Homo sapiens: one gene and its partner. The protein of the gene in region 1 interacts with the protein of each later gene in a biochemical or structural test. Each region holds a gene or a part of one and is shown on either strand. Other genes may lie near its edges. The genes, in order: CDH13 and ANXA1.

The links.
Region 2: the proteins of CDH13 (region 1) and ANXA1 interact in a test that uses a peptide from one of them, tested with the Homo sapiens proteins (one large-scale study listed by BioGRID).

What each region holds. Positions count from the first base shown.
Region 1 is NC_000016.10:83,781,357-83,785,186, forward strand, and holds part of CDH13 (cadherin-13 isoform 1 preproprotein), read left to right. Parts: intron 1-1,897; coding exon 1,898-2,116; intron 2,117-3,830.
Region 2 is NC_000009.12:73,161,563-73,165,392, forward strand, and holds part of ANXA1 (annexin A1), read left to right. Parts: intron 1-1,219; coding exon 1,220-1,299; intron 1,300-1,913; coding exon 1,914-1,970; intron 1,971-3,553; coding exon 3,554-3,647; intron 3,648-3,830. UniProt on the Homo sapiens protein: Plays important roles in the innate immune response as effector of glucocorticoid-mediated responses and regulator of the inflammatory process. Has anti-inflammatory activity.

The DNA of each region.
Region 1 (3,830 bases):
TTCAATAATATACTTATCCTGCTGTTGACCCCGTCAGGGTTCCCACTTCTTATGTCAGTGGTAGAACTTTTGAGGGAGACAGAGAATTACGCATTTCATTAGGTTTTGCAAATGTATTGTACAATTGTGCATAACATTTTCTATTTAAAAATCTCATATCTATTGTTATAGCCCTATCTCATATCTCATTTTTTTAGTGCCTTTTGCTTGTTATTGATTCTATTTGCCTGTTTGTCTATTTTATTGCTTTTTAAATAATGAATTCTGTTATACTGATTATTTTTAATTAAAACAGACCTTCTCTTGTTTGAGGGGTTAGTGTTTTATTTGCTAGTTTTTATGGCTATAGCCTATTTGAATAATCATCTCCAGTTCTTTCCAATTGGAACTTTCTCATTCAAGAGTTTCTTTTTTGGGGGCGTGCAGAGGGGGGTGAGCATCAGGATAAATAGCCAGTGCATGTGGGGCTTAATACCTAGGTGATGGGATGATTTGTGCAGCAAATCACCATGGCACATGTTTACCTATGTAACAAACCTGCACATCCTGCTCATGTACCCCGGAACTTCAATTAAAAAAAAAAAGAAGAAAAAAAAAAAGATTGTATCCTCTACTAAAGGAAGATGGGAAAATGCTGTTTGATTTAATCTGCCATCTCACTAGGTGAGCATCACATTAGTCATTGCTGCTCCTGTCACCTTCTGGTAATGATCATGCTTCATGTATTTTTATTTCCCTGTCATTACTCTCTTGTTTTTTCTCCTGGTTTTACCTAATAGATAAATGCCTTCTAAATGATTTTGTTGTCTCACAGTTTTTTTTTCTGAATATTTAGCCCTGTTTATTCCCAGAAAGGGGCACTTAAAAATACATATGACCCTAATCATGTGAGTGACTTTATCTCAAGGCTAAAGAATAGGCCAGCTGGTGCAGCCACTGCCAAGTGTCACCCAGGGGCCTGGGTGATGGTGGCTATTGCCACCGCACATGACATCAGGGAAGTGGAGGGGAAGCTTAAAGATCCAGTCTCTATGTTGCGGGTTCCCACCCAAATGTAGAGCTGTGGACAGAGGATTGATCAAAAAAAACAAAAACAAGGCTGGACTCAGTGGCTCACACCTGTAATCCCAGCATTTTGGGAGGCCGAGGCAGGCAGATCACCTGAGGTCAGGAGTTTGAGACCAGCATGGCCAATATGGTGAAACCCCATCAGTACTAAATATACAAAAATTAGCTGGGCATGGTAGTGTGTGCCTGTAATCCCAGCTACTCGGGAGGCTAAGGCAGGAGAATCATTTGAACCCAGGATGCGGAGGTTGCAATGAGCCAAGATTGCACCACTGCACTCCAGGCTGGGCAACAGAGTGAGACCCTGTCTCGAAAAAAAAAAAAAAAAAACTAAAGACAAAAAATGTAGGCTATAGAACCCATCTCCATGATAACACATTAGGGTCCTGCCCACATTGAGAGCAGGTGGATTTTCACCTTAGCTTTCTAGATGTGGAACGCAGTCTTTGTCAAGATGGCTTTTTCGTGTAATAAATTTGCAGGGAGGAGTTCTTGGTAATCAATCATCTTCATGAAAGGAGCTCTCCTTGAAACTGATTATAATCGCGCCGAGGCACAGAACTCTGGTGATGGAAACACTCTGTCTCTGTGTTGTTCATTACAGGAGCCAGCAGCCATGTGTGGCTTCTGGGCACTTGGAATGTGGCAGGTGCCACTGAGGATCTGAACTGGTATTTTCACTTGATGTTAATGAATTTAAATGTAAGCATTCGCACAATTATAAATGAAAATGCAATGCCTGTTTGGTGTGACTTTCATCACCAAAACCTCACTCTTTTATTGGAAAAAGTCTCATCCACTCTCACCAGAACCCTCCTTGCCTTTACAGATACACACGCCCTGGTAAGCCTTCTTCAAAATCTGAACAAAGCAAACTACAACCTGCCCATCATGGTGACAGATTCAGGGAAACCACCCATGACGAATATCACAGATCTCAGGGTACAAGTGTGCTCCTGCAGGAATTCCAAAGTGGACTGCAACGCGGCAGGGGCCCTGCGCTTCAGCCTGCCCTCAGTCCTGCTCCTCAGCCTCTTCAGCTTAGCTTGTAAGTTGACCTAACTCCAGTGCATGCACAAACAGGAAATTGTAACTTCACTGGGTTCGTGAAGCCAGCATTTTCCCATATACCTTTCCAAGAAGATGTTTCCCAGAAGAATCATTCATCTTTAGTGTATGTCTGTATGATAGAACATGTTATATGTAAAAGTGCTCCCACTGATGTTTAAAGGCATCTTAACAATCCCTGCCAGCCAGTCTGAGGGATTGTGCAAAGGTGTTCATTGCTAGCCTGCAAACTAGGTGGTAAGCAAAACTTCCTACAGCTGCCACTCAACTTGAGCTAATGAAAATGCGCCCAGATTAGTTAACTAGTCTATCAGAGGCCTGTTTCTCTCTACATTATGCAGAATAATCTTTTGCAAGGTTAAAACAGATATTATGAGACTTTCTGAGAATAGTCGTGAGAATTTATGGATGGAGGGTGGGCTGCAGGGAAAATGATAAATGCATAATTTACACTGTTTTTTCACTGGCTAGTAATAATGACTATAATATCATGAAACATTGTTTTTAACAAATGAATTATTATGCCAAGTAGTATAGATGTGAGGATAAAATTAATAAATACATGTCTCAGATATTCCTTATTTATGAAATACTAGTCCAATGTTAACTTTAGCCGTTATTCATATATAACTGTTACCATCCAAAAGCCTTTTGGGCCTTGCAATTTACCTTTTGAGAACGTATCGGTGTAATTGTGAATTAGGAAGTTGGGAAATTGACAGAAAAAGAAAACAGAAGGTTTTTTATCCTACTGACAGTGGTGAGCTGCCAGGAAATCACATAGTACAACATTGGACATTCACGTATATAAAGCTCTGTGCAAGACCAGAGTCCTGTGAGTAGAAGGAAAAATGAAGGGCCAGGCACGGTGGCTCACACCTATAATCCCACCACTTTGGGAGGTCGAGGTGGGTGGATCATCTGAGATCAGGAGTTCAAGACCAGTCTGGCCAACATGGTGAAACCTTGTGTCTACTAAAAATACAAAAATTAGCCAGCCATGGTGGCACATGCCTGTAGTCCCAGCTACTCGGGAGGCTGAGGCAGCAGAATCACTTGAACCCGGGAGGCGGAGGTTGCAGTGAGCCAAGATCATGCCATTGATCTCCAACCTGGGTGACAGAGCAAGGCTCTGTCTCAAAAAAAAAAAAAAAAAGGAAACAAGAAGCCATTATAGCATTTCACTGGCCCTTCAGACTGGGCATTTCTGAAAGCGAACATATCATCTTCCCCTCCTGACCTGCCCCTCTGCCTGACTTGTCTCTGATGACTGTACCACCACCATCATCATCACCATCATCTCCATGTCTCCTTCCTGGTCTTCCCACTGCAAAGCCCAACAGAGTCTAAGGGTCCAACACTTTCCATCCATCCCTGCCTCCACCCTCCTGTCTCAGGTACTAATGTCACTTAACCTCGATTATCTCACTGGCTTTCTAACTTTATCTTCTGCAAAGAGAGAGAGAAAATAGAAATCAAGAGGCCACCCCTCGGAGGCTTCTCCTGAGTCTTTTCTGTAAAGCAGAGACAATTTCAGATGAAGGGTTAGAGATGGGAGTGGGGACTGAGAAGAAATTAGGAAACCTTGTCAAAGCACAGATAATTCGGCTGTACAGCAATTGGGCTAAACGTTGAGCAGGGGTGGTCCAGAGGAGTTTGTATACTGTCTTAGTCCATTCGGGCTACTATAACAA
Region 2 (3,830 bases), on another chromosome or scaffold:
TTTTTGGCTTTCCCAATGCAATATATGGCATATAGAAGATCTTTCTGCTTGATTCTCATACCAAGCATGGAGAATACAATAGCTTTTGCATATCATTTTCAGAGGAATTTAATAAAAGAATAAAAATAAGGAAGCTTTTAAACCTCATTTTCTGCAATTCTTATTTAATTACCAATGTTTATGTTAGATCCATGTGTCAGTGGTAATAATGATGATTATTTTTGTTTGATAAAACATAGTTTATAAAAATAAGTGTTTATATATTTTTCATATGGCCAAGATATAGGCCAGTGATAGTTTATTACATTGCCCAGTTTCAAGTTGTTTTAGTCCGTTTGTGTTGCTATAAAGAAATATCTGAGACCAAGTAATGTAAAAAGAAAGGAAATACTGTACAAGTAGTATGGGACCAGCGTCTGCTTTTGATGAGGGCCTCATACTACTTCTACTCATGGCAGAAAGCAGACAGAAGCAGATGTGTGCAGAGAGGGAGAGAGAGAAAAGGAGGTGCCAGGCTCTTTTCAACAGCCAGTTCTTAAAGAAACTATGAATGAGAACTCACTCCGAGCCATTCATGAGGGATCTGCCCCCATCATCCAAACATCTCCCAACAGGCCCCACCTTCAACAGTGGAGAATAAATTGCAACATGAGACTTGGCAGGGCCAAACAAACAATATGAAAACCATAGCACTAGTCAATTATAAATTCAATTATTTTTTCCTATTACAGTATTATTTTATGTAGTTAAGCAGAAGTGTTTACACACACATAAATCATCAAACTGCATTACTTATAAGACATTTATAGTTTTTAAACTAAATAAATAATTTGCATTCAAGCAAGTACCTCATTTTGTTCTTTTAAACAATTATTTTATTCATTCTATTGCTTAAATTCTGCCATGTTGTATTTCAGAATTAATTACTAATGTATACCTATACAATTTATTCTTAACGAAAGCTTTATGACTGTGAGTTTTCAATCACAGTATTATCTAAATTGCTCCCATTGCTTCATATGAAATAAATTCAATGATCCAAAAATTTACCTGCTTTAATTTTTCTCTTCTTATTTAAAAATGATAATATTTTGCAACATGTTCCATAAGTCATTGAACACTGTGGCACTGTGAATTTTCAACCAACTTAGAGATGTCAGATATTCTTATTATTATTCATCACTGGTTTACTATAAAATCTATTTTTCTTTTTTCTCAGAACTGAAGAGAGATCTGGCCAAAGACATAACCTCAGACACATCTGGAGATTTTCGGAACGCTTTGCTTTCTCTTGCTAAGGTACAACTCAGATACTTTAGGAAATGCCTCTTGTTTTATAAAGACTAATTTCTTAGTCCATTTTGTGTTGCTATAAGGGAATATCTGAGGCTAGGTAATTTTTAAAGATAAAAAGGTTTATTTGGCTCAGGATTCTGATGGCTAACAAATTCAAGTTTGGGTATCTATGTCTGGTGAGAGCCTCAGGCTGCTTCCACTCCTGACAGAAGAGGAAAGGGAGCTGGTGTGTGCAGAGACCACATGGCAAGAAAGGAAGCAAGAGAGAGAATGGGGAGGTGCCAGCCTCGTTAACAACCAGCTCTCGTGGTTCTCATGAGCAAGAACTCATTCCCAGTGACGGCATTAATCTCTTCATGAGAGATCAGCCCCAGGACCCAAATACCTCCCTCTAGGCCCCACCTTTAACACTGGGGATCAAATTTCAACATGAGGTTTGGAGGGGAAGAACATCTAAAACCATCGCAAGTAAAATCTTGTATCTGAGCTCCTTCTAGAAATGAGTAATAGAATACCTTTTTCTCAAAAAATATTATTTATCTGAGTTTAAGATAATTAAGTAAATCATGCAATTACATGCTAGAGAAGAGCTTACAATAGAATGGGATTTCTTTCAGGGTGACCGATCTGAGGACTTTGGTGTGAATGAAGACTTGGCTGATTCAGATGCCAGGGTAAGGAAGTGCTTACAAAATACTGCTGCAGTTCATCTTCCTACCTTAAGTGGGGCTACCACATGATCCCCTGTGAAAGCAAATCTAAGATCTTCTGAGAGACCAATGGCTTCTTAATGTTCATTTCCTGAATGAGGCATGTCTTTCTGTAGCCCCCACACACAAAAAAGTAGTCTTTGTAAGTTTTCAATATCTCTCATTATTCGTAAAACCAGAGAGAACTGAAGAAGGACAATACAAATTTGATTTGTCATTCCCAAGAATTGTTTGTTAAAAAAAACTCTGACCTTTCGTTGTACTAGGTATAAGAAGGGGAAATGTAATTTTTTTATTATGTGCAATGGAAAGAGTAAGCATATTTAACGTTATTTTTAACAGAGAACTTTGGAATGGTTTATAGATGTCAATTTATATTGTCAAAATATTACTGCAATGATATAACAAGAGTATAGGATAAATTATAATAATATATGCTTTCTAACATATTGTTTTATTTAGTTTCAGTGACATTGCTGATTATTTATATGCCAAACCACTGGCAACATAAGAAAAATCATATCATTTTAAAGCCTGGAATTTCCATTTAAAACAAACAAACAACTAATATTTGCATTATGCCTTCTCATGGAACAGTATTCTCTAGAGAATTCATTACAGTGCTTCACTAAGGATAGAGATTTCTTTGTGCACCCCCATCCACTTCTGCTATACCAGTACATTATCATGTACATAATAGGCACTCATGAACTTTTTGTTCAACAAATGCATACATATCAGATCAATTTGCTTGAAAAATGCAAAATAATTTTTACATACATTGAAGGTTTTATCATTTTAATAGAAATTGTTCAAGCATATTAAGGAACAAGAGTTAGCATTTGAATAATTGCCCATAATAAAAAATTCTTATTTGCTTTTGACATTTCTGAATTTGCTTTCCATTTTAAGACTATCAGGGTTCTTAATATATATTTATGGAGGTTACATGGATTAGTGTGACCCAAGAGAATGATGGTAGTCAACATTTCAAAGTTAATAAAGACCGCTTGTGACAATAGGGCAGGGATTATATTTTTCATATATAAAAGAAAAAAATCTGTCATTTAGTAAGGTTGATCTATTTGTCTAAGATTATGCAGCTTTGAAATTGCAGAGTCAGAATTTGAATACAGAAATTCTAACATCAAAATGCAAGGTCCAGGTTACGGTTGAATTATTGATTTATAAGTAACATTTGCTGATAATTACTTTGAACAACACAGAGTAAAAAATCTTTAGAGATCCCCTTGGAGTTGTCTTACTATAGAGCATAATCTTAAAGCAATTTAGTTCAGCAAACATTTATTCTGCAAACATATATTCAGACTCTAGTGTTTACAAGGCACCTTGAGAGAAACTGTGGAAGATATTTGACAAACAAAATAAGGTCCCTATCTTTAAAGAACTTGCAATCTTATTGTTGACTACTCTGATTGTATTGGGCACAAAGCGATTGCCTATATAATCTTTGACAAGGTCTAACATTATTGTGCAGATATCATTTCAGCAGATAGTGAAGTGTTTACTTTTGTGTTTCTTGACAGGCCTTGTATGAAGCAGGAGAAAGGAGAAAGGGGACAGACGTAAACGTGTTCAATACCATCCTTACCACCAGAAGCTATCCACAACTTCGCAGAGGTAACAATAAATTTCTTTTTCTGGAATCTGTTTATGGAAGATGCAATTTTCTTTTTTGATGACAAATAAGAGAAAGTAAAAACAGAACCCTTTTTCAATATCACTCCTGTATCAAACAGATACAGTGTTCCTGACCCATTGTTATTTGTCAATTTGTCCAATTTTGTACAGCCGCTACTTTAT